Linked DNA regions of Homo sapiens. The protein of the gene in region 5 purifies or fractionates together with the protein of the main gene of each other region. This does not show direct contact. Each region holds a gene or a part of one and is shown on either strand. Other genes may lie near its edges. The genes, in order: RIGI, HSD17B12, MSI2, ATRNL1, RNF157, MTERF3 and FASTKD2.

Region 1 (4,567 bases), on a different chromosome or scaffold from region 5:
TACATTTCCAAGATTGGTTTCTAGATAAAGTACTGACAACTGATTTAAGTGACTTACACCACTAGAATCTTCAAACTGGCATAACACTTGTATGTACATATTTTGTTTTCAAGTATACATGTGAAGGCCCATCAGTGATAAATGGCTTAGGATAAAAAAAACACTAGAAAGTCTTATAATTTTTTTTATGACTTAATCCAAGTAAATGTTATTTAATCTTAATAATAGTAAACACAACTAAATTAGTTTGAGAGAAAGCCCAATCAATATAATTTCCTTAAAGACAAAGCCAATTTTTTTCTGAATATTAAGACTTTGTACCCATATAGCAGTTTTGCCTCATTAAAGGAAAAGATCTGAAACCGCTATTGTTTATTGAATTGAATTACCTTGGAAATAAACACCACTTAAACATTTCTCTCACCTACTTTTCCAAATAACCAATAATAATGTACTATTTCTGTTCAGAACTTAGAAGAATAAACCTTTTATTATTTTTTGCCAGGAATCTTAAAGTTCTTATAGCTCTCTAGTTCATTAGAGGTAAGCAAAACCAAACAAATTTTAAAGGCTGGTGTCCACCAACAATTTTTGGAAGCTTGAAAAAGGTAGCTTAGGAACTTTGGATAAGTAGAGCAAATGATGAGATACTGGAAATGCATAGGAAACAAAATGATTATTCATGGAACCAAATAAAAGCCTTCCTTACATTAGAAACTAAAAGCCATCAATGGTTTTATTAATATGTATATATAAGTAAAACCTAAAGAAGAAGAAACAGCAAATAAATGCAAATTAAAAGAAAAAACAAACAGGAAACCAACCTGAAAATTTTCTACTCAGTTTAACTTGGAGGCTATAGTGTTACCCAGAGCCAAAAAAACACATGATGAATATTTTGTTCCTGATGCACAATTTAATGTCTTTAAGTTCACCAATACCACTATATATTTTGTGCAATTAAGAAATTCACTTTAGGCTGGGCGTGGTGGCTCAGGCCTGTAATCTCAGCACTTTGGGAGGCCAAGATGGGTGAATCACTTGAGGCCAGGAGTTTGAGACCAGCCTGGCCAACATGGTAAAACCCCATCTCTACTAAAAATACAAAAATTGGCCAGGCATGATGGCACACAACTATAATCCCAGCTACTCTGGAGGAGGCCGACCAGTAAGTATTATACTGTAATGATAGTATATCTATGCAGAAGAGCAAATACAGTGTGAAGCAATGCAAGCATGTAGGTGAAATTTGGTTGTTGCTATATCTGGCTTTTATCTGGCTTCATGGTTAACTATATTAAGAAAGGATTGCCAAACTGCCAATGTGTTTCTTTACAATATTTCTTATTTTACTTTCATCAAGACTAAGAGCTTTAACTATGAGCAGTGTTAATTAGCCAGATTTCTCCAATATTCTATCTGGTTTTAAGAGAATATTATTTAAGCCTTTTATACTTTGTATTTTCTCTGTCTGTACATAAAGGTAGACACACAAAGAAATAGGAAAGAAACTACATGACTTACACACACCATCTATGATATGCTTAGACTTTCTGATTTGTCCTGGATTTTCGTTCTTTTTCTTCTTCTTTTTTTTTTTTTAAACAGTCATTTTACTTTAGGACAAAAAAAATACCATTATAAGATGCTTTGTCATACAAAATTATTTTCTTTATAACCTTCCTTACCAAAAATACATCTTTATACTCATAACTTTCTCCACATCTCTCTCGTCTACTTGTTCTTTTCTACCTTGTTTCATAAGTAACCTTTCAAGTCCATAATTATTAATAAACTTTAGATAACTTCTGAGTTAGATAAAATTTTTTTCTGAATAAAAACACATTGTCTTTTGCACATTTTATATATAGAATTACATATGAACTAGAATTCTTATCCTTAGTAACAACCTTAAATTTCAGTAAAAACCTAGGAAGCAAGAAATCTTGAGCTGCCTAGCAGATATTAGTATTTTATAGATGAGAACCATTCCACAATTTTTAGAAACATGTTCCCCACATCATAACCTTTTCTTAATTGGAAATGACTCAAACATCCAATGATTATATTTCCGATTATGCCAAAAGTTCATTTACAGCATTTGACCATTTACATTTTATTTATTTTTAGCAGTTTATCTAGATTATTTCTGCATCATTTCCTTCTTAACCATTTTATAACCTGTGAATGTCAGGTGTTCACCTAAATAACCTTAAAATTAATACGTGGGCATTTTGATCAATAACTCAGAAGATTCAGCTGTTTTCATTAAACTAACAGCATTAAATTAGTCTTATAAAGAATTCACACAAATATTCACTGGGTTTATAGCTTTATAACCTGCTGCCAAACTCTGATACCTCAAATTATCTAGCTGAGACAAATATAAAGCCGAGACAAAAATGTATGCTGACAATTCTGAAGACATTTCTATTTTTATTTTACCAATAATTTTAAAGACAGCTTGTTTATTAAAGATTTACTGAAGTCATGTGAACTTGAAAAACACTTTGGACTTAATTTATGAGCACTCTTATTTATAAGCCAATTTGGTAGGTATAGTGTATAACATAGTTAATGTACATCTAGATAAACACATCTAAACATGTATACACACACAAAGATCCAACAGCTTTTACCTTGGAACTCTAGCCATGAGATAGCAATACAAACTCACGAATCTACAACCAAGTCCACATGGCTAAAATTTGTTTGCTCCAATCGGTAATCCAATGAAGGCTGTGAACCAGAATTTTGGGTAAAGCAGTTTCCATGGCAGTTTGATTTTTAGAAGCTAGATTCCAAAGAAACCTGGGGCCAAACAGCACTACAGAAGAACGTCATGTGGAAACTACTCACCAGGCCCAACCCTGCTTAAAACAGCGGCATAAAAGCCAGAATACATGGGACTCCACCTGGCTTTCCCATTCAACAGCCAACTCCAGATTCCAAAGAATATTGGGGCAAACGTAGTACAAAAGAATATTTGTTTGTTGAATTCTAATTTCCCATTACTATATTGACACATACAATCAACAAAACACAATCCGACTGCTGAAGCAATAGACAAGCCCGAACAGTGTCCAAACTGAAACAGTCGAGGTGCTTTTCTCTCTCAATCGGGCTTTATTAACCTGCAAACAGAAATTTCTTAGGAATTTTCCAAATTGAGAGAAGCCGATCCCACTGTCTGGTACCCAAAAAAGACACTAACTTGGCCAGACACAAACACAGAAATTACAAACACGCTCTCTAGAGTATCATACTGAGAGTCAGGGTGCTTCCCTTTCTTAGTCAGTTGGGCTGGTTTAACCTGCAAATGGAAGCTCCTTTTAAAATTTTCAAATTGAGCAGATCTTGCTGTCTGGGCCAAGAAAGGACACTCACTTATCCAGATGCCAGTGTCACATTTCAAAGGCTGTTCTTCCTAGCAATCAGGAACTCAGCTGGGGCTGGCAGCAGCAGGGCCAGAGAGACCAAAACTCACTTCCAGCCAAAATTGGGTGGGCAGTTGCTTAGGAGGGCTTCTGAGACTCCTAGACCACAGCAACCCAGCCACAAAAATCTGTTACTGAAGCACCAGGGGTTTGGCCTAGGTCCTCCTGGTAGCCACACAGAAAGCCAAACAGGGAGACAACAAGTATTGCCAGGGAAGAAGCCTTTAATTGGGAGCTGTAGCCAAGAAGATGAGAGATTAGTCTCAACTCCATCTCCCTGACCCACTAAAATTAGGGGTTTATATAGCAGGGAAGAAATGTAACTGTGTGGGAAAACAGGAACTCAGGAAGCAATCATGATGAATGAGGGGCCTGGCCTCATTGTCTGGATGTGATAATCTGGTGAATTTCAGTTTGATACTTTTTGAGAGGCCTGGTGGTCTTTTGCCTGAGAAAGGATCTCAGATAAAACAAGTGTAAGCTTCAAGTTTAAAGACCAGAAGGGTCAATTTCTGTTTTTCTGGAATAAATGTCTGTGGGACTGTGGTCAGTTTCAAGATTGCTTTTTGGAGTGTGAGTAGAAAGAGCCTGGGACGGAATCCTGTGCAAGCACTCATTTAAGAGATGAGCAGAGGAGGAAAAGAGACTGGGAAAGAGTGCCACATATGTGGGCAAGGAGGCATCACGGAAACCAAGGGAGAATGATGTGGTGGATAACATGGCTGAATGATGCTGAGAACCCAAGGTCTGTCAGAACTAAAAAAACGTTCCCTTACTTTGGCATTATTGACTTTTGGGGCCACCCACAGGACTAGTTTCTGTGGAATAGGGATGAAGGTAAAGGTATAAGATGGTTGGGAAACTAACTGCAAGAGTAGACTCAGGAATAAATAGAGGGCAAGGAAGTGGAGAAGATAAATGTAGGCAGTTCTTTTGAAAATATGATTCACAAATGAAAAATTACAAGGGAGGTAGTGCTTAATAGTATCTTCACACAAATCCAGTCTATACAATTTGGTTACACTGTGGGTTCCAAGAAAGGAGAGAGAAGACAGAAGCAAAGATAAATGGAAAAAATAGAAAATTTTACTTGTCTGAGAAAGAAACAGCACTTTGCATGTGAGTTTATT
Region 2 (3,756 bases), on a different chromosome or scaffold from region 5:
TCCGGATTTTAGCCAGTTTTGTAGCTACGAAGTATGGCAGGACACTCTAGAAAGGGAACACCCACCCCAGAAAACATGCCATTGATTAGTAAGGCCACAAACTCAGAATGTACAGTGGTGCTTGACTGCTCTTAGTGGTAGAAACATCTGTATCTTTACAGAGAGAGAAGAAAAGAGAAGTGGCTATCTAAAGCCAACTTGATAGAACACATGATACCATAAAACAAATTGTAACAAATCAATCTCTCAATAAAACAGAGTTTGAGACCAGAGAAAGTATTAAAAATAAGCAGAAATCTACCTTTTTGAACCTTTAAAAAGGAAAGCATTAAATAATCCAGAGAGCACAGATTCAGGATAGGATACTTTTCACACTTAGTAAACTCAACATTGAGACAGAACCACCAAGTAGGAGATCTTTGATACTTTATTCTTCTAATGGGATAATGCCAACTTTCTCCATAATTTATGGCTAATTAAGCTTGTTCTATCAGCTTTGATCCTTCTAAAATAGACATCTTATTTCTCAGACTTGCGTTACTACTTTTCTTCCCTAGTTTCTCACCATTCTACTTCTGAGTTTTATAAACAATTTTATTGATAAGATAGAACCACCTCCCTTTTTTTCTTTTTTAGAAGAAACACAGTCTAACAATATGGAAACTGTTTGGGTAACTAAAAGACACCTGACTGGATGGGTGTAGGGTGACAAATCTGGACATGACCTTTAGAGGAACTTCAATAATGTTAGGTTCTTTATTGCTTAAGCTTGCTGCATTTTGGATGTGATTCAACACAGAGTATAAGGAAACCCTATTGTAACAAGTCCTGAGTCATGATACAAGAGGTCCTTCTGTAGTTTGAAATAACCTGGGCATGGTAGTTCAACAAAGAGTGAATGTATTGTTTATCTCACATGTGTGAAGTATCACTGCAATGATACTTCTTTTTTTCTTTTTCTTCTTTTTTTTTTGAGGCAGGGTTTTGCTTGTTGCTTAGGCTGGAGTGCGGTGGCACGATCATAGCTCACTGCAGCCTTGAGCTCTTGGGCTCAAGGGATCCTCCTGTCTCAGCCTTCTGAGTAGTTGGAACCACAGGTGTGCACCACCATGCCCAGCTAATTTAAAATTTTTTTTGTAGAGACAAGGTTTCAACATGCTGCCCAGGCTGGTCTCAAACTTCTGGGCTCATGTGATCCTCCCACTTCAGCCTCCCCAAGTGTCGGGATGACAGGTGTGAGCTACCACGCTTGGCCCAATGACACTTCCATTAAAGAAAAGGAATGGTTCTAACACATGGTGGTCAAAATCTTAAAATTTCAATCAAATTGAGATCTGTTCCATTCTATGGATTTCCGTCCTGCTGAGACCTAGAAGGAGTGGTCCCATGTCTCTGGTTTTTTTTTTTTTTTTTTTTTTTTTTTGAGACAGAGTCTCAGCGAGAGTCCCCAAGCTGGAGTGCAGTGGCGCGATCTCTGCTCACCACAAGTTCCGCCTCCTGGGTTCACACCATTCTCCTGCCTCAGCCTCCCCAGTAGCTGGGACTACAGGCGCCCGCCACCACGCCTGGCTAATTTTTTGTATTTTTAGTAGAGACAGGGTTTCACCATGTTAGCCAGGATGGTCTCGATCTCCTGACCTTGTGATGCACCCACCTCGGCCTCCAAAGTGCTGGGATTACAGGCGTGAGCCACCGCGCCCGGCCGTCTCTGGGTTTTTATGTACGTGTGTGCTTTGCATTTTTCCCACTCCGAAGTCTAAGTCAAGGAATGCAACCCACTCTCCTTGACAGGTTAGATGAAACCTCAGCCTCTTCATTAGAACCAAGAACCCCAGATGGAGTGCTGTCACTCTCTATCTTCCTCTTTCCTTGTTGCTGCAGCCACAGACTCATACTAAGTATGAAGTACTTCAATATTTGAGCCAACTTTGATTAGGTAACTTTTGATTTCTGAGAATTTGTTTATTGGGATTATCACTATATATTTATCCCTCACTTAGAAAAAAAAATTTTTTGTCACATCTTTTAAGGACCATTTTGCCACAAGGATATAGTCTATGAGAGCACACACTAGGGTGAGATCTCCGACTCAGACTGAGTAGGAAATGCAGAGTTCAGTGAGGCTCTCACAATGGGTCAGTAAAGAAAAGGTTATTTCCCAGAGTAAAGTTGAGCAGTAAGGAAAGAAAGAGTATATGTAAATACTCTGATCTCACATAATGAAGGAACATAAGCAAACCATTTCTCATTTCTATGCATTAGGTTTAAAGGTCACAAAATAGTGAAGATTAAAAAAAAAAACCCAAATATAGATCACAAGCCTGGTAAAGGTATTGTAAGATTTTGAGCTTCTAGAGGTAGAGATGGTCTAATCATTATACCTCTCAACTGCGTTATAATTTTTTGTTCCTTTCGTCCATCCTTTTTGCCATCTTCTTCCCTCCCTTCGTATGTAACATGGTATAAATTGGACTACTTTGATCTTGTAGGAGAATTAAGTTGCACTGCCTGACTGAACCACTTGGTGGTGCCACAAGTTAACTCTTCATGCAGCTAAACCATAGAGCTAGTCTAGAGAACCCCCAGATCAAGGGGTGGGGACAAGAGATGCATACTCAGGAATTCCAAGTTGGGTTATGTTTTTCCAGCTAAGAAATGTAAATTCTTTTCTAGAAAGTATATTTATTTCCACGATGGTTTAAAATCAAGGCAGTTAACATGGCCTAGTGGAGGGTTCAAAGACGAAACAGCGTTTGAGCTAAGTCTTAAATGAAGTGCAAGAATTTCCCTAATTGTAAACAAATAAGGGAACAGCAGGAGCCAAGAAAAGGAGCCACAGAAGAGCATGATGTTTTTCAGGGAACTGCATAGCTCAGGATGGTTCAAATGTTGGAAATGTGTGAAGAGTGGCAGGAGGGAGGCAAAACGGTACAGAAAACTGAATCCAATCACTGGGCAGTATCCATTTCTAGAACACAAGCTCCATGAAGGCTTGGTCATATTCATATATTTTAATGTTTTAGAACAGTACTTGGTACATAGCAGGGGTACAATTAATATCTATTGAATGAATTGGTGAAAGACACTTCATTATGGACAGCACCGAAGAAGAGTACTGGGGTCTCTTTCCACTGCTATGATCCAGAAAATTAATTACACCAAGAAGTTGATAATATGAATGTTTAAGCCAAAATTTTAGAAATTCTGAAGCATATATAAGAGCACCTATCTAAACAGGCATACTTATAGCTACTTGCCAATGATTTAAAAATAAATATTCCAAGTTATATGAAAGTAAAGAAATATCTTAGATATCAAAAAGCCATCTAGGTACACCCTTCAACTGTTAAATAAAAACCCAACAAGGGATAATTAGTTGATTTCTCCTGCTTACTCAGGAAAACATTATGGGAAACAGGTCAAGAAGATACTCATACTTTTATAGGAAATTGTGGGCAGAACAGATTTTTCAAGTTGCTCAATTTCAACAAGTTCCCATTACAAATATTGCCAGCTCAGAAACAACCTGACCTTGAGAGCTGCAGATGTGGGCAAGTATCCTGGTCTTCAAATTTAGCATTCCCACATGGCAAATAATTAATTAGGCCATAAAGCAAAGCTGTTGGTGCTTCCTTGCTCAGCCTATTTTAAAACAATAAAAATAAAAAAAATAAAATCACTGGAGACAACTTGGTATCTTGAGATGGAGCCTCGCTCTGTCACCCAGCCTGGAGTGCAGTGGCGCCATCTCGGCTC
Region 3 (3,900 bases), about 19 Mb from region 5:
CAGCCCCATGCCCAGCTAGGACCGGGAATGGGTCCGGGAGCTAATGCCACTCACTCGCCTCTGCTTGGGAGGAGAGGAGTTCGGGGGTCTCAGGCAGATGGATCTGGAAGCCAGAAAGTCACCCGGTGGCTGTTTGATAATTCCGGGGAAAAGCCATCAGCCAAGAGGGTTTCTCCCCCAGGGAAGGCGAAAGGTGGTTCCCATGTTCGCCATTGAGCTTAACTGAAACAAAGACGAGGCTGAAACATCAGTGTTAAAAGAATTTACAAAAATCTTTCAAAATGGACTTCTAGATGGAATGGGGGGACTAACGTGAACCTTAAACCTAGGTAGCCACATTAAAACATATCGGATTTCCACAAGATTTGTGCTATGGGCTACTGGGTCTCTTCAAAAGGTATATAAACATCTAAAACATATTCACACAGATTATCAATTTCTTCTGAGCATTCTTAAAAAAATATTTTTTCTCTTAGTAAAATCATTTTAATATACCATGCCTCCCTCTTTTAAAAAATAAATTAAAAAAATCCAGTTTTGCATATCTAGCATTAGCATTTAAGGTAGTATGGCACCCCTTCACAGTGGGTGGGGGGGGGGGGATCTACAAAACGCCGTAGAGTCCGCCGGCATTTTAACATGGTGAGACCTTGGGTTAGTTGAAACCACATCAGATCAGCTAAAATAAAATTAAACTTGAAATTGAAAAAAATAATTAAAGGAAAAAACTGCCCCAAAATTATTAGCATTTTTTTTCATAAATAAGAGAAAGTTCTATCCTTACTGGTCCTAAATCTGAATAACTATGTCTAATTTTTTTTAAACCTTAATTATGTTATACCTATCAATATGTACTAGAAGAAAGAGGAGAAAAAAAGTCGCTACACTAGTACCAGGACAGCACGCTTACAAGATAGCCATTTTATACATTATTAACATACAATGATCAACAAAGAGTCTTCTATGAGGTGATGGGGGATGCAGAGAAAAGGAAGGGAAGTACAGTACATCACCAACATGGACAAAATAGGAATTAAATTCCCTCGTCTAAACACTGAATTTCTGGGAATTTACTATTTTTTCTTTCTTTTTTTTTTTTTAAATAAAACTTATGTTTTGTTGTTTTATGACTTGAACAAGTTTTGATATTTTAAAAGCGCTCAGCATTTAATCTGGTTGTTTGGGGGAAAAGAAAAGAAACAAAGAAAGGAAAAAAACAACAAAAAAACCTCACCAAACAACCTAACATTTTATTAGAAAAACAAAGAACATGATTTTTTTTTTAATTAAAAAAAATGTTGTTGCTGTTTCATTAGAATTGAAAACGGGTTTTTTCTTTCTTTCTGAGTTAGCATTTTGGAGTCTTTAGTTTGAAGATGCTTTTGCCCTACCATGTCTGTGAATGTCTACATTAGTCTACTTTGTTAGTAAAATTTATAAAAATAGGAGTGCAGCAGCTCTTTATAATAAATGTCGCATTCAGTGTCTCATACTGGCTGTGCCTTAAGTACCAAATTTATAAACGTAACAATTTAAAAAATATTAATAAAACGTCAATATCACATTTTAAAAAAGAAAAAATATATATCCACACTACAATATGTTTTAATGCCATCTATTGAGTTGTACTTCTATAGTTGCTGTTGCCGACCTATTACCAATATTTAAAAAAAAGTTAAATTAAAAAATATCCTTCATCATAAGTATCTTTCCCCAACCGAGGACCATATATTATAACAGCCAAATGTTAAACATGTGCAAAGAGGAAACTGTCAGTTTTTCCCACCAGTCACAGTGCAGTGATGTTTATACTTTTTATTTTTAAAATTCTGTTTACATCTACAATAAATTAAAAAAAAATTCTTCCATAGCCTCTCTGGTGATACTTGCAGCACTGAGGTATTAAAAAAAATATATATAAACCAAAAGGTTGCTTTCCTAATTTGTAAATAGAAAGTGAATGGAGAAAGGTTGTATTAATGCAGGCTTATCCACTCCTGGCCCATGGGCCCCCAGATGTGGGAGCAGGGTGGGGGGCAGGGGGAGAAGAGAGGCAAAGTGTCCTAGGGACCTTTGGAGGTGCTGAAATGATTGGACAATAGAAAATGATCAAATATTTAAAAATTAAGACTGAAAAAGAATGTCCCCCCCACCCCACCCCCACCCAAGCCAAACAGGTGTGCTTTGAAACTTTAAATATGTTAAATATTAAAATTGTAGCTTTGTTTTTAAAAAACATCTTGGGAAAAGCAGTTTTTCATATTTTAAATAAAAATCTAACTAGACGGTAACATTTGAAGCTGTGCACAGACAAGAGGTTAATAGGCTGGTACAACACTAATACAGTTCTTAGGTCTATCACACAGACAAAGGAGCTAAACAGTGCTCTAACTTGTCCTGGGGTGGTCCTGGCAGCTGGGCGATCTTCATCTCAGTAACTGACTTGGCCAACGTTCCCTTCCCGCCTCCTTCCACAGAGCATCAAACTGCCTGGGACCGACTCCCTCACAAAAATATTTTTGATTCTCTCTTTCTTAATAGTTTCTATGTAGTTAATGGAATTGTATTTACAACATTTCTTTTTTAGAATTCACAATTTCAAAAAACCTTATAATATCACCTCTTTCAACAGAAAAAAAGCACTTATAGAAAAGGAGGACACTCAAAACACTGTCGTCCTTACCTTATTGCCGAAAATAGATAGACTCAGATTAACAAAGAGACATCACAAAAAGAACTGCTAGAAAGTCTGTTAATTAGCTTACTACATCTCACTTCTTCTACAACGCAAAATAGAAAGCTCACGCCCACCTCCCGCCCTGCACTTCACAACTTTGCTTCAGTGTGTGCTAAAGTTCCACCTGAAAATTCATACAGTCTCAGAATTGGTACCAAAATATGGAGAGTCATATTACCATCTCAGCATCCTTTAAAAGTGAGAACAGAACCAAAACAAGCAAAAAAAAATGTTTTAAGAAAAAATAACTCCTTAATATAACAATTATACTATGGTTAGCTTTGAACTAGATATTAAAGCTATGTGACTACTGGACTAAGTCAAAATCACTACCAAATGTGATTCAAAGAGATTTAAAAGGAGAATGGGAAGAGAGGGAGGGAGAGGGAAACCATCAAGAAAAACAAAACAAAACAAAACCGAAATCATGGGTTATATACACATTTAAAAGCTGTTGTCTTATATTACAGCAGATTCGTGAGATGATGAGATGTAGTCAACCCTCGATCCGAAGTGAGCCATCTCTGGTTGGGATGGGGAGTGAGGCTGGTGGGGGTCCAGGTCTGAGGACATCACCTAAACAAAGGGCCACTCAGAAACTTCGCCCAGTCTTGCCTGGACATCCAGGTATGCTCTGCAGGGCAGGGAAGGCCAGGATGTCCAGAAGAAAACATAAAATGGAGGGGAGAGGGGAGGAGAAAGAAGTGTCAGACAAGTATGCGATTTCCTCCACTGTTTTAACTAGAGTTTCAAAGATGGACTTCACTGGACTATTGAATACGCACGAGAATCACCTGGCTAGAAGCTTACTGAGATCACAGGTTGGGAAATCTGACATCTAAACCATACCTGACACTGGGGAGAGGACAAGGCTTCAATTCTTTTGCTGATTTGATATAGTACCATAGGGTTGTTGAGGTAGTGGTGGGAAATGTGCTTACAGGGATTGCAGCCAGGTGGGCAAACTGCCCATTGACCTGAGATACCTTTTTTCTGTTTAAACTTCTGTTTTCAAAGCTAAATGTTAAAAAAACAAACAAACAAACAAAAAAAACCCCACAAACTTGCCTTTATTAGATACCCATCGATAACTTTTAAATGCAAACTTACACTAAAAGATCATATCATATACCAAAAACTAAAGGTCATGACACTAAAAATAT
Region 4 (4,567 bases), on a different chromosome or scaffold from region 5:
AGGAGAAAAAATAGCAAACTAGACTATCTGCTCAAGGAACAAATGGTAGAAGTAGACAATGAAGCCTCTATAATAATCAAGAAAACAAAAGAAGCAAAAGATCAAAAACAAGAGAGACAATGGCAGACCTGAAGACCTGACTTATGCTTGCCTAGCTGACAATCCCACCAGCGGTATTTAGTTATCATTATTTGATTTGTCAGTGGTAGAATTTAATTCATACCTGTGTTAAAATAGTGAATTATGTTTCATTAACCTTCTCAAAAAAAATCAGTTACAACAATTTTTATATTTGCACTGTATAATTATATTGTTCTCAAAAAACTTATTTCAAATAAATAAAAAGTCTCAAAGGATTATAAAAAGAAAAATAGCTAAATATTAGCAAACAAAAATACAAAAAATGCAAACAGAGTTAAGAAATATTAAGATATATCTAGAAGTTCCAGCAACTATTTTAATATTTGCAACAAGAGTAAAGAGAAGAAAACATGTATTTTAAGACATTACACAACATTTTTAGCAGATGAAGAAACAAACTACTCTTCAGATTTAAAGAGCCAATGAGAAAATCTAAAAAATCTAAAAATCCTTTTCTTCAATGAAAAACTGTAAAAAAAAATTAATTTTAAAGATCCACATCAATCACTGAAAAACTGAATTAAAACAATGAAAAATTTTAGAATGCCAACAAGAAAGAAAAAAATCTTAAAAGCTCCCAAAGGGGGGATAAAAAAGATGTTCCACAAAGGAATGAAAATTAGATTGGCATTGGAATTCTTATCCACAACACTGAGTGCTAAAGAGGTTCCAAGGAAAAAATTATTTGGAATACCACATTTAGCCATTTTATCATTCAAGTGAAAATGAAAAGTACACTTTTAGACATGCAAAGACTCAAAAGTTTATGTCACAATTTATTTGAAAGAAATTACTAAAGATTATTTACCAATGGTTAAAATGGTAAAATTTATGTTATGTGTGTTATACCACCAAAAAAAATTGTAAAAAAACAAAAAAGTAGAACAAATGAGAAGGAATGGGATATAAGAAAAATTTGTGACAACATAAGCTTAATTCTAAATAATTTTTAGAAAGTTGTTAAGAGTATAAGAGCTTAGACTTTCACAAACCAGTTTTTCCCTACTTTCTAGCCTCTTTTATTGTGAAATATAACACACATACAATTACATAAAGAAAAATATAAGATTAATAAATTCCTATAAACACACACTCTGGACCTGCACAAAGCCTAGAAGTGGAGCATTGCCTCTCTTGTTTCATTTCCTAATCAGCACCCCTAAACTTCCCCCAGCAACATCCTCTAGCTGACATTTTTGAGAATACACTTTTGCCTTACTCTATAGTTTTACCACCTAAATACGCATTTCTAAACAATACAGTGCCGTTTTGACTATTTTTTAACTTTATACCTAAATGTAGTCAAACAGTATGTAATCTTTCATGTCTAGCTTCTTTCATTGAACAATAATGTTTGTCGAGAGACAAGCATGACTATTGAGGCAGGAGAAGGTGCGCATTGTCTCATTCCCCACAAGTCTTCAACTCTTGTATTCAACTCTCCTGGGCAGCTGGCTCCTAGTTTTGAAATGTTTTGCTATGCACAAAGGCCATTTTATGCCTGCAACCACCACACTGCCACCCACTTGATCAGGTACAACACCCCCATTCCTTACCACAATCCCTAAAAAAGGATATCAACAGGGAGCTCAACTCATAATACATCCAACCATGTCCATCCCAGGCATACCTCTCCACTTCATGCCAAGAGCCTGAAGGAACAAATGAACACAACAGCTGCAGCTGGGATTCCAGCCTGCATTGTGTTACTGTTTTGCCTTAGCTCTTCAAGTAACAGTGGTGCCCACTATGGACCAAATACATATTTGACTGGACCACTGAGAGTGATGAAAGGCCTAGAAAGTCAGTAAGTCTCTACGTGCATTGCCTTATGCAGTGGCTACCTCTAAATGGGAAGATGACTCATCTGAGCAAGAAGGACTAGTATCAACTGGGTGACCATGTTGTCCAAGGGCCATACACTTACAGGCTTCAACATACTAGATTTACCACCAACAGGGATCTCAGAATTATGAAGTTACTGTGATAGAAGTTATTAAGAAATTATTTTAGGCAGATAGAGAAAAAAGGAGTCCTTGGAAAGTTTTCATTTCTTTTTAAAACACCTCCAAAAGTGTTTCTTGTCTAACAGAAAAGTCCCAGCTCTTAGAGCCAAGCCGGCAACCTTTAGTATGCATATGCAAGCCATTAGAAACTGGGTCCACTCAACATGGCGATTCCCACCTTTGTCCTCTTGCCCTTGCCCCACATGTATTTGGGAATATGGCCGCCCCACATATCCCCATGTGTGTAGAACATCATGGTGCCCTGCATTTGCATATTAAAAGGCTAGGGTGGGAAGGCCAGTTTTTTTCCGAGGGCTACCTGAATGAAAGCCTGGTCAAACCAATCCCCTAAGCTCTATGCAAATCAGACACCCCCTCCTCCAGCCTCTACATATACCTGCCTGGTACGCACCACACTTGGGGTTTCCTCTTTCGGCTGTGGAGCCCCCATCCCTCTGTCTCTGTAAGAGCGAACCTTCTGCCTTTTCTTTTCTTTCTTGCCTATTAAACTCTCTGCTCCTTAAAACCACTCCACGTGTGTCCGTATTGTTTAATCTAATTCAACGTGAGACAAGAGCCCTGGTGTTCCTCCACTCATGGGAGCCATATCATTACTATAATTGCTAACTAGAATGGGTTGCCTCTCAGAGGAAAAACAAGAAAGCTCAAAGGAGGGAAGGAAGAGTGGACGGGCAGAAAATAAATATTGCTGCTGGGATAGTTGTTTGTATTTTCATCAGTCAGGCTGCCAGTGGCTGCTCCTATGGAGGGACTGCAAGAAAGTCAATGATCTAATAAGAAAGTCCTGAAGATACTTATGAACGTTATAGAAACAAGCTGTGTTATGGCCTACACTCCTAGGAAAACTCCAAGTGGCTGTTTCCTGGAGAGAAAGGGTCAGAGGGAAACCAGTGGACTGATGCAAAAACCTAAAATGGACCTTTGACCTTTAAAAGTTTCAAATATGACAAATGAAGAGAGATGATGATAGTGGAGAACTTAGGGCTGTTAGGAGAAAGGAATTAGAATCGGGATAAAGATCCCCTGGAGAGAATTCCTGTATAGAGAGGGAAACTGTTGCTTTCCCTATCTCATTGAATACATTTCAACCACAACATATTCCTGAGTTTAATAGATACACCAGACTCCAAGTGGCTGTTATTTTGTCTCCTTTGACTGAACTGTAACTACAGTTTCTTTGGAACCTGGATCAAACACACCAACATGTTAATTAGATTCACTCATTTCAAATCCTGTTTACTGCAGGTTAAAGTATTGGAAGAAAAAAAAATCCAAGGAGTCTTGCTCCTTTTTTCTTTGTGAGCTTCCTGGACACTCAGATGTTGAGAAGAAGGGAACTGAAAAAGAAGCAAAAGAACTTCTGATTTTATTTGTCTGTTTGGACTTTACCAAATAACTGATATTTTGCTTTGTTCAAATCAAAGCATCCTCAACGGACATAAACTTGGATACCGGCCGGGCGCGGTGGCTCACGCTTGTAATCCCAGAACTTTGGGAGGCCGAGCTGGGTGGATCATGAGGTCAGGAGTTCGAGATCAGCCTGGCCAACAGTGAAACCCCATCTCTAAAAAAAGTACAAAAATTAGCTGGGCATGGTGGCACATGCCTGTAGTCCCAGCTACTTGGGAGGCTAAGGCAAGAGAATCACTTGAACCAGGGAGGTGGAGGTTGCAGTGAGCTGAAATTAGGCCACTGCACTCCAGCCTGGGCCACAGAGTGAGACTCCATCTCAAAAAAAAAAAAAAAAAAAAACCTGCATACCAACTTTATCTCAGGTGATTCTGCAGCTTTCTATGGTGGTAGAATGGTAACTACTGGGCCCCTGAAAAGTATATTATTCAAAAAAAAAAGGACATAAAGTCTGGATTAATTACAAGAGGGACAGATACCAATGAGTGGGATATGAATGAATGCAACCAACATTGAGAAACAGGTCATGAGAGCAGCAGGAGTAAGTAAAACTTTCTACTTTTTTGTTCCAAATCTGAACATACCAATTAATTCAGGTGAAAAGGCATATTTTTGATGAGCGTCAGTGTCAAAGAGTGGATTGCAGAAAGATAAACCATATTCTCTGCTATGAAGAAGCTAGCTAAGATTGGCACTTTTTTCTCCCAAGCAGAAAGAGTTTCACACGGTCTTAAGTTCCTACAAGGCTAACAAGTGCTCCCAGTAGCATTATGCAATTCCCTTGGCAGCTGTATTCTGACGCCATTTGTGTTTGTAAGCAAGGCCACTCTCACCACATAGTACCCAGTATTAAATATTCATTCAGGTGCAGCCTTATCCTATAGTCCTTAGAAAACATGAGAGATCAGCAAGGGGCAAAATCTTTCTCCTGAAGTATAACTCATAGCAAGCCCAGTACTGCCCTGCTGACATAACTCTATGTGATTTCA
Region 5 (5,242 bases):
CAGGTCTAGCCGCTTTCCAGCGAGCCAGATAGTGGTCTCAACTTAACACTCAAACTACAAGGTATGTCATCTGGAGAAAGCTGACTCTGCCACTTGCTTTGTTCCACTGTTAGTACTCAGGATAAGGAGACTTCTCAAAATCAACCCAGGTTGATTCCTCTATAGGGACTTCAATTATGACACGAAATAGCCTTCATTCCATAATCATGGAATGATTGTTTTAAGTCTTGTTTTTTGAGTACAAGTTCAAAACCCAATTCCTTGAGAGGTGGAGGCAGACAGTATAGTAGGAAGAACACTAACTGGCTGAGAGACCCTGGCCATACCAATTCATTTCTCTGGGTCTCCATTTTCTTATCAGTGAAATGAATGGGAGGCCAAGGCGGGAGGATTGCTTGAGACCACGAGTTCAAGACCAGCCTGGGCAACATAGTGAGAGAGTGTCTCTACAAAAAACTTGCCTGGGCGTGGTAGCTCACACCCGTAATCCCAGCACTTTGGGAGGCCGAGGCAGGCGGATCACCTGAGAGGTCAGGAGTTCAAGACTTGCCTGGCCAATATGGTGAAACCCCATCTCCACTAAAAATACAAACAATTAGCCGGGTGTGGTGGCAAACACCTGTAATCCCAGCTACTTGGGAGACTGAGGCGGGAGAATTGCTTGAACCCTAGAGGCAGAGGTTGCAGTAAGCCAATATTGCACCACTTCATTCCAGCCTGGGCGTGACAGAGAGAGACGATGACTCAAAAAAAAAAAAAAAAAATTAAACATTAGCTAGGCATGGTGGTCATGGCCAAACTCTGTCAACGGTTCCTTTCAGGACTAATACTGTAATCCCATAAAGAGCCAGGTCAATTCAAAGATCAGAAGAAAGGCGATGCCTCCGTCTAGAGCATATATGCAAGCTCACATAAGGTTTCAAATACACAAAGGTTTGCTGACAGAGACAGGATGTTCTGATTCTATTTTCTATGTTTTAGCTTCAACAGAAATAATGTGGTCCACTTGCTATAAAGACTTCTCTCATGTATAACTTCTGATTTAACATGAATTACAGTTTTACAGTTAAACTTTTAAAACTGGTAGAGAGGAGAGGATTATTTATTGAGTGTGCTAATTAACAAAAGTTTTGGTTTGGTCTATTGTCTTTTTATTATCATCACCCAAGATTCATACTTGTACAAATATGCTTTGGGGAACAGCCTTCCAGAGGTTTACCTATGTTAAGTCCCACATATGAAAGAGCGGTGAATACTTTCCTGAGGCAGCAAACACTATTGAAAATTCCAAGCTCAGCAAAGTATGCTCCATATTTTGATCAATAAAAGCCATGTGGTTTAAGAAAAACAGAGCCCACAAATACTGCTGCATATTTTTGTCTATTTTAAAAAGTTTTCCTCATGCCGCCCTAAGAATATTTTTGTCTATTAAAAAACAAAATCTATGCCTTGGTTAGCGTTGATTTTATGTAGTCATAATCAGTCAGAGCTTTATTAAAATACTAACGACCCACAGCTTTATCTTAGACCTTTCTAAAACAATTCTTCACCATATTCATCTTTGCAAGGATTCATTCTTTGGTACAAAAGCAGTGAGAAACACAGCTCTGGCAGACACTCTGCAGGGATGCGGGCAGGTTCATCGTCTGGCCCCTGCTTTCACCTGGCAGACACTGGACACACTGCTGAGAAACCAGCTCATCTCAGTATGTCTCTATTCTACCAAAAAGAGACGAGGCTCTGCTCCAATTCTGACACCTCATTCCGAAATCACCAAAATCTCCATCGGGTCCTAAGCAGACAGAATGTCGCAGCCATTCATCCTCAGAAGTCTTGAGAATAAAATTAAAAGTAATTAATTAAAATAAAACTACTTGCAATTAAAAGTAAACACCGGCTAGGTCATGCAATTCATACTGGCCGGTGCTCACATAACTGAACTACCTTGTGATTCTCTGCTTTGCTGTCAAAATCCTCCTCCACCTCCAATGCTGATACCACAATCCAGAGGCTAGAGACATTTAAGTGAAGGGATGATTCTAATAACAAACATACTTCTATACGTTTCCAATACCTCTGCCCTGTCCCAGAGCTGGTCCCACTCCAAAACCCAGGCTTGCCACTACGCTAGCAAAGGGGCAATCCGAGTAACTCTGATACTCAGATTCCCAAACATTTCTGTTACTTTCCACCACCACCACCCCCCCCACCCCCCGGCTTCTGACAGCCTCTGCAAAAGCACCAGCACTGCAAATGCCTGTTTGGCTTCCATCCTTCAGCAGGCAATGGAAGCTTTTCCAGGAGAAACCTAATTCTAACCTTTCCAGAGGCCAGGAGACGGCAGCGCAGGGATAGCACCTGGCGCAAGTGCCTGTTTGGATGCCGAGGTCGCCTCCCTCGCGGCCCTCGGACCCCGCGAGGCAGGTAGGCTTTGGGCCGGGCCGGCCGGGTCCGTGCGGGGCGCCGACCTCGCCTACGACGCCGCAGCCCCGCTCCCCAGGAGCCTCGGTCCCTGCGGGCACGCGTCCCCGTCACGGGGCCGATTACAATGGAGGCCGCTCCCGTCCTCCCGTGGAGGGGCTCGGTGCCCTCGGTGACCCTGCTAGACCCGGCAGGACGCCCCTTGGGCTAATTCGCCCGGGGCGGGGGAGACCTCGGCCTTCTCGAAGACCTCCCGCGCTCGAAGACCGTTTCGGAGCGTCCGCAACCACTGAGTCCCCGAAGACCCGCGGGGCCCCCTCAGGCCGTCCCGACCCAGACCCCTGCCCCTGCCCCTCTCCCTCCTCGCGGCTGCGGCGCCCGCCCGCCCTCACCGGACTTGGGCGGGTAGCGGTACACGGAATTAGACGGGATGTCCACCTCCTCCACGCCCGCGTGCTGCCGGCTCGTCAGGGCCCCCATGGCCGCTGCGGCTGCAGCCCCGGCCCGGCCCCGGTGCCCGCGCCGCCCTCCGCGCTTCACCGCGGCCGCCCGCCCCGCGCCCGGTGCGGGGGCCGACTGCCCGCCGCGGCCGGCTCCGCTGCGGCGCTGCGGCTCTGGCGGCGGGGAGCCCCCGGCGCGCCGCGCACCATCCTCCGCCGGGCACCGCGGCGGCGCCTCTGCCAAGGGGGCTGCGGGTCTGGGCCGGGGGCGCCGCCGCCGCCTCAGGCCGCGTGATGTCAGCGGCCGCTCCGCGCGGGGACCGCGGCGGCCCCAGCCAATGGCGAGGCGGGGCGGGAGCGCCCGCGCCGGAGCAGCCAATGAGCGCGGGACTGCAGCAGGAGCCGGCGGCGCGTGCCTCGCGCGGGGAGCCGCGGCTGGACTCGGCGCGCGTGGACGCGGCCCAGGGCCTCGCGGCGGGGGCGTGGGCGTGGGCGGGGACTCGCGACGGGGACGGGGGCGCGGCCGGGTGCCCGCGGCGGGGCGGGGCGGGACCGGCCGGAGCTGGGACCCCAGGAGACGAGCGCTGCACCCGGCCGGGACGCGTCGCCCCTCCGCGCCTGTTTATCCCGGCTCGGATTACCGCGCAGGGAGCCGCCCCCTCCCGCGGTCCGCGAGGACTGGCCGGGAGCTCGCTCGCCATTGTCCTGGGCGTCCCAAAGCGGGCGGTCCCCGCTCCGCTGCTCCCGCGCCTGGAGGAAGCCTTCCCAACCCCGCCCCTCAGCGTCGGCCGGCGGAGGTCTTCGGAAATCTCATGCAGGGGGGTAGGGAGAGGGGTCCCACGGTGCATTCGCATGTCTCCTGCCCCGTGTTAATGCTGGTGACCGGCTAGGAAGATGCCGCCTCCCTCTCACGTGCGTCTATTCAAAGCGCTCCCAACTCTATACATGCTGTTTAAGGCTCCTTGTAGCCCTAAAGTTAGGAGAACATCGACTGAGGATAAGATCAAGACATCCAGCCTCTGTCTGTATCGTGGAAACGGGACCCCGGAAACTTTGGAAAGGCCTGAGTGCCAAGAGAGTCAACGCAGGCGAAAGCGAACCGGGCCAGGCAGAACCGGGAGCTCCTGTTGATAAAAACACACACAACAGTGGGAAGCTTGGGCCGGCGGAAGACGTCATTCCATTGCTTAATTACAGACATTTGTGTTTTAAACCTTCTATTTTCTTTGTGGGTCTGGTGTTTTTTTTCCTGAGAGAGTGGACTGATCAGCAAACATTTCAACTGCTAGAACATGACTTTCACAACTTTTCAACAGTGTTCGAAGTACAGTTTGGGGTGTCTGGTTCCCTTGATTAGGTTTGTAAAGCTATTTTACGGAGTCTAGGTCTTTCCTGGTTATATTTTGTTTTTGTTTTTCTGTGTTTTGAGACGGAGTCTCCCTCTGTCGCCCAGGCTGGAGTGCAGTGGCGTGATCTCAGCTCACTGCAACCTCCGCCTCCTGGGTTCAAGGGATTCTCCTGCCTCAGCCTCCCGAGTAGCTGAGACTACGGGCATGTGCCACCACACCCGGCTAATTTTTCTACTTTTAGTAGAGATGGGGTTTCACCATGCTGGCCAGACTGGTCTCCAATTCCTGACCTCCGCCCCCCAAAGCGCTGGGATTACAGGCGTGAGCCACCGCGCCCGGCACATTTCGTATTTTTCATTGCCGTCTTTTCAGCAGCAGCCAACAGACCTGATGCTAAGTGCCTTGGTTTCCTCCAGGGTCCTCAGGATGGTGGGAACACATCCCTGTCATTTATATTGGCTGCTGCTAACGAAGGCTTGGGTTACAGGGCAAGTCCCTGCCCCGGCAGCTTCTCCCAAGCACCAGAGCTCTCTGGCAGAGTCCCTGGTCCTAACTACTCCAGGGCTTTCAGTCATCCCTGTGGGAGGGAACTGGTGTCCTCCTCCATACTCCTTTCAGCACACACAGGCCCTACCTTGTAACTGCTGGGTAAAGGTAAAATGCAAATAAGAATCTAGAACCACCTCAAAACACAAGGCCTTCGACACATCACAGAGTAAAATGTTGCCTTATGCTCCTCGGCTCTGTTCAGAAGCCTTGGTTCTTCCTGCCCTCGGCATTTTGTAAACGGGACATCCCTTCCCTTTGTGGGTTTATCCATGTCTGAGAGTTTCTTCTGCTTAGCCAGGGCCAGGCAGGGATGTGGCTTAGTCAAGCAGCCCAGTCCTGTTGCTTATGGGGTGTCTCTTCTGGTCCCACCTTGGCCTGACCCTGGGAAGCCAGCTTCTCCATCTTGAATAATACTCCCCAAGCCTAGAAGTTGGTTCCTCCTCCCACGAAGGAGTCATGAGTCCAATGCTTAGAATAGTAAAG
Region 6 (3,921 bases), on a different chromosome or scaffold from region 5:
ATATGTGGGTGTACTTGGGAGCAAAAGCTCAAAAAGCATTTTGAAGATCCTGCTGCTGAAGGATCTGTTTGGTGTTGGGCCCATGCCTCTGACCTGCAGCGCTCCCATGTCACTCATTCCCTCTTGTAATTATGGTTGCCCCTTTGGTGAGCTTCATGACCATCATGGTGTAGCTCTTTCTCAGCAGAGGGGTTTGAAATTCTGGTGACCCCAGGAGCCGGAAGCTGTAATTCCTTGAAGGCACTGGCATAGCTGTCTCCAAATTTTAAAATGTTATTTTAAGTTTAAAAGAATCATGGTCAGGCGTGGTGGCTCATGCCTGTAACCCTGGCATGGGAGGCCGAGGTGGGCAGATCACTTGAGGTCAGGAGTTTGAGACCAGCCTGGCCAACATGGTGAAACCTCATCTCTACTAAAAATACAAAAATTAGCCAGGCATGGTGGTGGGCACCTGTAATCCCAGCTACTTAGAAGGCTGAGGCAGGAGAATCACTTGAATCCAAGAAACGGAGGTTGCAGTAAGCTGAGATCGTGCCACCGCACTCCAGCCTGGATGACAAAGCGAGACTCCGTCTCAAAAAAAAAAATCATGGCCAGGCGCGGTGGCTCACACCTGTAAGCACTTCGGGAGGCCAAGGTGGGTGGATCACTTGAGGTCAGGAGTTCAAGATCAGCCTGGCCAACATGGTGAAACCCTGGCTGTACTAAAAATACAAGAATTAGCCAGGTGTGGTGGCATTCCTCTGTAGTTCCAGTTACTTGGGAGACTGAGGCAGGAGATCATGCCACTGCACTCCATCCTGGGCAACATAGCGAGCTCCATCTCAAAAAAAAAAAAAATCAGTGCAGCCTTGCCATGGTACCAAAATAACTATTTCTACATAACGATTCATAGCAAATTTACTTTCTTTTAGGTTTATCGTCTTGAACTTGGTTTTAAACATAACGAAATTCAACATATGATCACCAGAATCCCAAAGATGTTAACTGCAAATAAAATGAAACTTACCGAGACGTTTGATTTTGTGCACAATGTGATGAGCATTCCCCACCACATCATTGTCAAGTTCCCACAGGTAATGCCACTCACAGCTCTCTCTGTAAGCGCTGCCATTGCGCTTCATTTGGAGCTGCTCTCCAGCTGCATAGTTCTGTACGCTGGGAAGAGTTTACAATTTGCAGGGCGCAAATGTCCATCTCCTGAGGAGAAATCAGTGATTAGTCTCTTTCCCTGGAGTTTCTACCTAGTCCTAGTTCTGATTGTTGGAATCAGGCCAACAAATCTAATGTAGTCTCTCTTCTCTCTCATGTTTTTCTCTACTTTACTTTGGAATAGATCACTTCCCTTAAAGGTCCTTTCACTGCTACGTGTACTTTTTAGTCACAGTTTATTTAAATTCATGAATCAATAAGCCATATTGTAATGATCCCCATCCCAATATAAAAGTGATCCAGTTTGCCATCATGCCAAAGCCGTAATTATATTTTCTAAGCTAATCAAGCTTCCATATTCTTTACCTAGTGAGTGATATTATCTGCTGTTCACAAGAATATTAATCTTGAATATTGACTCTTTAAAAGCAGAAACTTTGTCTGATTTATACACTGCCAAATCCTCAGTGCCTAGAACTACACCTGGCACTAAGTAGGCACACAATTAATATTTGTTGAACAAATGAATGATTGGATTTTATCAAAGTAATCCTTTTTTCCTATTTCCTATGCAAATAGCCACTCAGTATTTATTGGATAAATGACAAACTGAATTTTTATTTAAGTGATCCCTCTACTCCATTTGCTAGAACACATGTTCCTGTTTTTGAAAAAAGATGGGTAAAAGAAATATGACCTTAATACAACTCTCAGAACTAGACTGCATTAGGTCCAGTTCCTTCACATACAGCTATATTTATTTGCCTATTATACTTCACTAGGAACGGGCCTCTAATATAGGATTTTCCTATTTTACCAAACGTAAATATACCCATTATAGAAGTGTTAGAAGCCTACAGTTTTGTGAATTTGGCTCATGGAGTAATTGTGAAATAATCTTCAACGAAAAAGAAATGACAATTTGTTTTTCCCTGGGTTGGTGGGTAATTCATTTTTCCAGTATATCACTGAGCATCCATCAGTGCTACACATTGGGCACTGAGGATACAAAAGTCAAGCAGACATGATCTCTGTTCTTGTGGAACTTATAATCGAGTGTGGAAGACAGGTTTAAAAATAGAATTGCTTTATATGATGGTAGAGTCCTAACCAGAGCTCCTACAGTGATTTAGAAGCGGTAGGAGAATTATAGAAGTAATAACAGCAATTGAGTACTTACTGTGTGCCAGCTCTATCTTTATTGCTTTATTTGTATTAACACAGTTAATTCTCACAACAACCATATGAGGTAGATGCTATTATTACCCCTATTTTACACATAAAGAACTTAAGCTTAAAGAGATTTAAGTAACCTGTCCAAGGTTACCCAAGTAACAAGGTTGGGGCAGAACCACGATTAGAACTCCAACAGTCCAGTTTAAAAACCCAAGCCCTTTACTAGGATCTGCTAGAAGTACATTTGAATTGTCTGTAGAAGAGGGAGTGGTGTTTAAAAGATGGAGAGGAGCTTTCCAAATAGAAGAAATTATAAGCTGACCAGATGCATCAAAATCACTTAAAAACACAGATTTTAGGCACCCCAAACCCTTGCCTCAGAGAAGCTCTGTTGTAGAATTGTGGCTTCCAAATTGGGATTCTCAGATTCCTAGAGTCTAGGTGGAATTATTGGGGAATAAAAACAGAAAAATAAAAAGCTTATTAATGAAAAAATACATTAACGGACAGTAAGGCTGTGAATGGGCTGATATAGACTTTACATTTTTGGCTGGTGTTTAAATCTCAGTGGCATGGAACTAATTTTCTCATGTAGATAATATTCCTGGTTGGCAGATCTGACTTACGATTAATTAAAAATGGGGAAAGAAGTATAACTTAATAACTATGATCAATTTAGTCATTTCAAAGAAGAGATCTTGGAAGGTAAAGGATAACAAAAGCAGTTTTAGGGTAATGAATGTGAAGAAATCACTAGGCTAAGGAAAGAGGTTATATTCAGGATCCCCCGAAACCTTCACTCTCCCCTTCCTCTGTGACTTTCTGTGAAGGCAAAGTTGAAGTCCACCTTAGGATTAGAGGGAACCAATAATTCTCAGGCTAGGGGCACTTTTTTTAACTCCGAAGAATTTAATATGTCATTAATAGGATGAAATTTTTGTGCCAATGGCAAAGTAGCCCCTGGTGGCCAACAACTCTCCCCCCACACCACCACATCCATAAAAAAAGAAGGGAGAAACACCGCAATCTGAGCAGTAGCTTTTGGACTTGAAAGAGTACACAACTCTCTAATGATGGAGTAACTTTGGTCCACTGGAGAAGTAAACGTATAATATCTGCTCATAAGCTAAATAAATGCTTTGAAGTGTTATTATATTTAGGAAATTAGTAATCGTTTAGGAGCACCAGAACCATTTGTGGTTTTGTCTGTTGTTGGGTGATAGTTTTTTTTTGTTTTTTGTTTTTTTTGTTTTTTTTTGCGATGGAGTCTGGCTCTGTCGCCAGGCTGGAGTGCAGTGGCGTGATCTCGGCTCAGTGCAACCGCCGCCTCCCGGGTTCAAGTGATTCTTCTGACTCAGCCTCCTGAGTAGCTGGGACTACAAGCGCCTGCCACCATGCCCAGCTAATTTTTGTGTTTTTAGTAGAGACGAGGTTTCACCATGTTGGCCAGGATGGTCTCAAACTCTTGACTTCGTGATCCGCCCACCTTGGCCTCCCAAAGTGCTGGGATTACAGGTGTGAGCCACCGCGCCCGGCCGGGTGATAGTTTTTTAAGCCAAGAATCACTGCATAGGAGTCATACTTCTAAAAAAA
Region 7 (4,567 bases), on a different chromosome or scaffold from region 5:
AATAAGTGTATACATTCAATAAATGTTGGCTATTGCTGTATGTCTTGCACGAGACAAACATTTTATAGACTTTAACTCATTTAACTCACACTAAAAAACTCCATGGGTATTACTATTATTCTCCTCATTTAAAAAAATGGGTAAACAGGCTTAGAGATTGAGTAACTTGTCTAAGAACACACAGACAAGGAAGTAGCAAAGGCAGTATTAGAACATAAGGTGTCAGGCTCCAGAACCTTTTCATAATTATGCTAGATTTTCTATAACGCCTGGACCACCACTACAGTTTTATAACCAACTAAAATTATCTAGTTATCAATACTATGGGTTAAAAGAACTGCAAGCCTAATCCTACCACCCACAGCTAATGGTACACAGTATAACGTGGTTAAGCACAAATGAAGACAGAAAAGATCAAAATCAGGGGCAGTCGCTTGCCCAGAGTGACACCACTAATAAATGGTAGATACCCTTTGAACACACGTCAATCTGATTCTCAGGGCATATGATACATATAGTTATATAAAAAAAGAAATACATGCAAAGTACTGTGATCTCGCAGAGGAAAGAAAATAAACAGAAGCTTTTGGGAGGAGAATTTGAATAAGTGGAAAAGATGGAATAAGGGAAGAAGATTTGAGCACAGCCCTGAAAGCACATGCTACTTGCCTGATAGTGAATAACTGGTGAGATGAAGGTACAGAGGAGTGTTTCTTAACAGCTGGGGCAAATATGCCTGGACACAAGCCCTTGTTAACAATGAGACTGAAATCAACTGAGAGGTCCATGGGTAGGGGAAGAAGTGTTGGGGAGGATGAAGGGCTGTGATAAGGCCAGGAAAACGATAGGAATTATGATGAAATGGGAGGAATATAACAGATCATATACGCAATAGCAAGGCAGCACGTCTGAAATTAGTACTGACTGCTTTTGGAACATGCAGTGGGATGCGGGGGCAGGGGATGGTGTGGACAAGGAAGTTGGGAGCCTGGGTAATGATCCCCCCTCTGGTCTTCTCTTGCCCCACTCCTCACCCTGTACCTCATGCTTCAGCAGCCCAAACTGTGTGCTGTTCCCTGCATGTGCTCTGCTGTTTCTTTCCTCCAGGTCTTGCATATAGAGGGCCTTTCACTTGGAATGTTCTTTCCTGCTTATCTTTCCATGGTAAAACCCCATCTCTCCATCTTTTAAGATCAGCTCAGATACCAACCCCTCCAGGCAACACTGCCTGATATCCCCTGACCCTCCTCTTCACCAGGCTGGCATCCTGATATATCCTTCCTCTATTTCCAAATATCCTAGATGATATGGTTTGGCTGTGTCCCCACCCAAATCTCATTTTGAATTGTAGCTCCTATAATTCCCTTGTGTTGTGAGGGACCCAGTGGTAGATAGCTGAATCATGGGGGTGGTTTCCCCCATACTCTTCTTGTGGTAGTCAATAAGTCTCACGAGATCTGATAGTTTTATAAGGGGAAACCCCTTTTGCTTGGCTGTCTCTCTTGTCTGCTGCCCTGTGAGATGTGCCTTTCATCTTCTGCCATGATTGTGGGGCCTCCCCAGCCATGTGGAACTGTGAGTCCATTAAACCTCTTTCTTTTGTAAAGTGCCCAGTCTCGGGTATGTCTTTATCAGCTGCGTGAAAACAGACTAATATGCTAGATCACTCGAATTTTCATGCTATATTTAACTGCCAATTTACATATCTACCTTACCCATTACACAGAATCCTCTGGCAAGAAGGACTGTCTTATTCATCTTTCTCCTAAGTGTCCAGGTGCTTGGCAAATGCTGACTAAACGAACAAATAAACTTTGATGAGGAAGACAGGAGGACGAGCTTGTCATTGGAAAACGATGAGTCAAGAAAAATAGCTGACTTCCAGAATTACTGAACTTGAGACACTTCTGGGATGTGCAGTGACCATATGCAACCCACAGAGACTCAGGTCTGGAGTTAAGGAGCACACTAATGACCACAGATGCAAATGTGGGATTATCCATAAGGTGGTAAATACAGATCAAGAAGAGAAGAAACCAAAGGACCAAAACAACAGAGCTTAAACGTTACATATTTGTTCCTTGGGTTCAAAGCCCAGCAAGATACTCTGGATTTAACACCCTCTCCCCGATGGGCCATCATAAATGAAATAATGATTAATGTATAGCATGTGGGTATACAATAAGCCAGAATTCCTACCACTCTCCTATCTAACCATCTCTTCTAGTCAACTCTCTTCCCAAATACTTTGAGTTATTCTGCTTCCAAAACCTTTGCTACTCCAGATAAGTTGCCATCTTCCTTTCTCCTTCCTCCATAAAGCACTTACTTGGTGCCTACCATGTACTGCCTTCCTCTGGATATACAACAGAGTTGTTCTCATAAATGGTCTAGGAAGAGCAGGGAATACAAACTTCTTTTTTTATAGCCTTCAAAATACCAAATCCAGGCAATTGTACATTCATGGGCATTCAGGAAATGGTGACTAATTAATCTTGCTATATCTGCCATATTGCCCCTACTTCTCCTTTGGAGAAATGTTGAGGTGGGAGGCTTAGAATTAGGTAAGGGTTTCTCAATCTCAGCACTACTAACATCCGGGGCTGGATAATTCCTTATTGTGAGGGGCTATCTTCTGCATAGTAGGATGTTAGCGGCACCCCTGGCCTCTGTCCACTAGAGGCCAGTAGCACAGACCTCCCTCCTGTTGTGGCAACTAAAAACCATCTCCATACCTTGCCAAATGTCCCCTGGGAGGCAAAATCATCCCTGTTTGAAAACCACTAGGTTAAATGAAAGCAGAATAGACAGACAAAAAGACAACATTCATGATTCTCCTCCTGTACTAATTCTACTACTGCCATTTTATTAAATGTCCTCCCAGCCTTTGTTACCTTTGTTATCCCCCCTCTATTTTCAATGTAACAATTTTGTTGGAACAAGTTATCTCTCAGGTTGCCTGGAGTCACCTGAAAAACTCTTACCCGCCCAGTACTTACTCTCTTAATCCCTCTGGGGCTGTTTCTGGAGTTTTAATTACCACTTAGCTTGATATTATTTGTCTAGAAAGTACAAGGCATCAATGGGAGCCAGCCTCAGAAGAAAATGAAGCCAGGGGAGTAAAGGAAGATTGAATTTGGGAGATATTTTTCGACCTTTATTAAATGTCTACTCTTTGGCAGGTCCTGTACTAAGTTCAGAAAAACAGGCAGCTGGGTCGGACTCCGGAGAGCTTACCAACTGAGGAGCAGAGACAGACTTACTGACACAACAAATGATGTGACACAACTTGTCATGTCTTACCCAGTCTCCGGTGCAGCCTGTTGTCAAGGCTGCACCGGAGACTGGGTAAGACATGACAAGCACAGGGACTCTGACGGTGACAATTAGGGAAGACACAGGAAATGCAGTATGAGCTGAGTCTGTCCATTCAGTGGACAGTACAGTGGGAAGCTGCTTTTTAGTTGGCCTGACACCACTTAATTGATTAACTGCCCCTAAGGGATGGGCATTTGACTCAAACTCAGTCAATCAGATGTTCTCTTTCAGAAATCTAAATCTGGAGGGAAAACTAAAAGGAAAGCAAGCAGCTGGAGTCAAGTCATTTGATGGCAAACAGATGGCCTGTGCATCTTGCCACTGAGACCTTCACAACTGCCCTAGTTTGTTCCCCCAAGGCCTCTGTGACCTACACTCTAATTTTTTTCAAATCTAAAAATTACTATGTGCTGGGCATTGTCATAAGAACTTGACATAGATTAACTCATTTAATTCTAATAACAACCCAATGAGATTAGACATAGCTCATCTCCATTTTAATAAGTGAATAAACTGAGGCACAGATAAGTAATTTGCCAAAAGTCAAGCAGCTAACAAATGGCAATGCTGAAACTCAAACCTAAGCAAGCTAGCTCTAGAGTCCATGCTTTTAATCACTGTTTTAACAAATGACATTTTATATGCTTTTCTGATTTTTAATGAACCCTGACTGATCCAAAGAGTAAGAAAAGATGTTCTGGGTAGAAAGCAGAGGTATGAAAGAAGCTGGCACATTTGAGGAATTACTGTATTTAATAGTAGGAATGCATGGCTGTGGTTAAAATGAAAAGAATAGAAAGCAGTAGCTTGAGACCAAATGAATAGTTAAGGTCAAAACTGAACTAGAAGAAGGTCCAGTTCTCACAGCTTCTCAGAAACACTGATTTAGCAAGGACATATAGACAAAAATACCTTTATGAAAAGTCCAGAAACCAATTAAGATATTGTCGTACTCCAGACAAGAACAAAACCAAGAAGAGTTGCACTGAAACAGGCAAGAAGAACATTTTACCCAGGTCAGCCCCTCCCCAAAGCCGGCACAGCTCAGCACCAAGGAGATCACCTTGGCCTAGGACTTCTCCCTTGGAGGGAGAGAGTAGAGTGTGCAACCAACATCCGGCTTTTCACTGTGCTGCCCTAGGGGCTGGATTTCTGTCTAAACTCACGTGGAATACTAACAAAACCAGCAGGGTTCAGATGCCTGAGAGCAGTTAAGAACAAAGGAAAAGGGGTGGACAGCTTCCTGCAC

What was found.
Region 1: the proteins of RNF157 (region 5) and RIGI purify together in Homo sapiens (affinity purification with western blotting; one study listed by BioGRID). This does not show direct contact.
Region 2: the proteins of RNF157 (region 5) and HSD17B12 purify together in Homo sapiens (affinity purification with mass spectrometry, with the first as the bait; one large-scale study listed by BioGRID). This does not show direct contact.
Region 3: the proteins of RNF157 (region 5) and MSI2 purify together in Homo sapiens (affinity purification with mass spectrometry, with the first as the bait; one large-scale study listed by BioGRID). This does not show direct contact.
Region 4: the proteins of RNF157 (region 5) and ATRNL1 purify together in Homo sapiens (affinity purification with mass spectrometry; one large-scale study listed by BioGRID and IntAct). This does not show direct contact.
Region 6: the proteins of RNF157 (region 5) and MTERF3 purify together in Homo sapiens (affinity purification with mass spectrometry, with the first as the bait; one large-scale study listed by BioGRID). This does not show direct contact.
Region 7: the proteins of RNF157 (region 5) and FASTKD2 purify together in Homo sapiens (affinity purification with mass spectrometry, with the first as the bait; one large-scale study listed by BioGRID). This does not show direct contact.

What each region holds. Positions count from the first base shown.
Region 1 is NC_000009.12:32,515,420-32,519,986, reverse strand, and holds part of RIGI (antiviral innate immune response receptor RIG-I), read left to right. Parts: intron 1-4,567.
Region 2 is NC_000011.10:43,851,005-43,854,760, reverse strand, and holds part of HSD17B12 (very-long-chain 3-oxoacyl-CoA reductase), read right to left. Parts: intron 47-3,756; coding exon 1-46. UniProt on the Homo sapiens protein: Catalyzes the second of the four reactions of the long-chain fatty acids elongation cycle. This endoplasmic reticulum-bound enzymatic process, allows the addition of two carbons to the chain of long- and very long-chain fatty acids/VLCFAs per cycle.
Region 3 is NC_000017.11:57,679,020-57,682,919, reverse strand, and holds part of MSI2 (RNA-binding protein Musashi homolog 2), read right to left. Parts: intron 3,372-3,900; coding exon of another isoform or gene 3,330-3,371; 3' UTR 1-3,329.
Region 4 is NC_000010.11:115,302,575-115,307,141, reverse strand, and holds part of ATRNL1 (attractin-like protein 1 isoform 1 precursor), read right to left. Parts: intron 1-4,567. UniProt on the Homo sapiens protein: May play a role in melanocortin signaling pathways that regulate energy homeostasis.
Region 5 is NC_000017.11:76,237,340-76,242,581, forward strand, and holds the start of RNF157 (E3 ubiquitin ligase RNF157), read right to left. Parts: upstream 3,155-5,242; 5' UTR 2,902-3,154; coding exon 2,814-2,901; intron 1-2,813. UniProt on the Homo sapiens protein: E3 ubiquitin ligase that ubiquitinates APBB1 for its degradation by the proteasome and thus prevents apoptosis and promotes survival of neurons.
Region 6 is NC_000008.11:96,241,074-96,244,994, reverse strand, and holds part of MTERF3 (transcription termination factor 3, mitochondrial isoform 1 precursor), read left to right. Parts: intron 1-914; coding exon 915-1,076; intron 1,077-3,921.
Region 7 is NC_000002.12:206,782,030-206,786,596, reverse strand, and holds part of FASTKD2 (FAST kinase domain-containing protein 2, mitochondrial), read right to left. Parts: intron 3,364-4,567; exon of another isoform or gene 3,289-3,363; intron 1-3,288. UniProt on the Homo sapiens protein: Plays an important role in assembly of the mitochondrial large ribosomal subunit.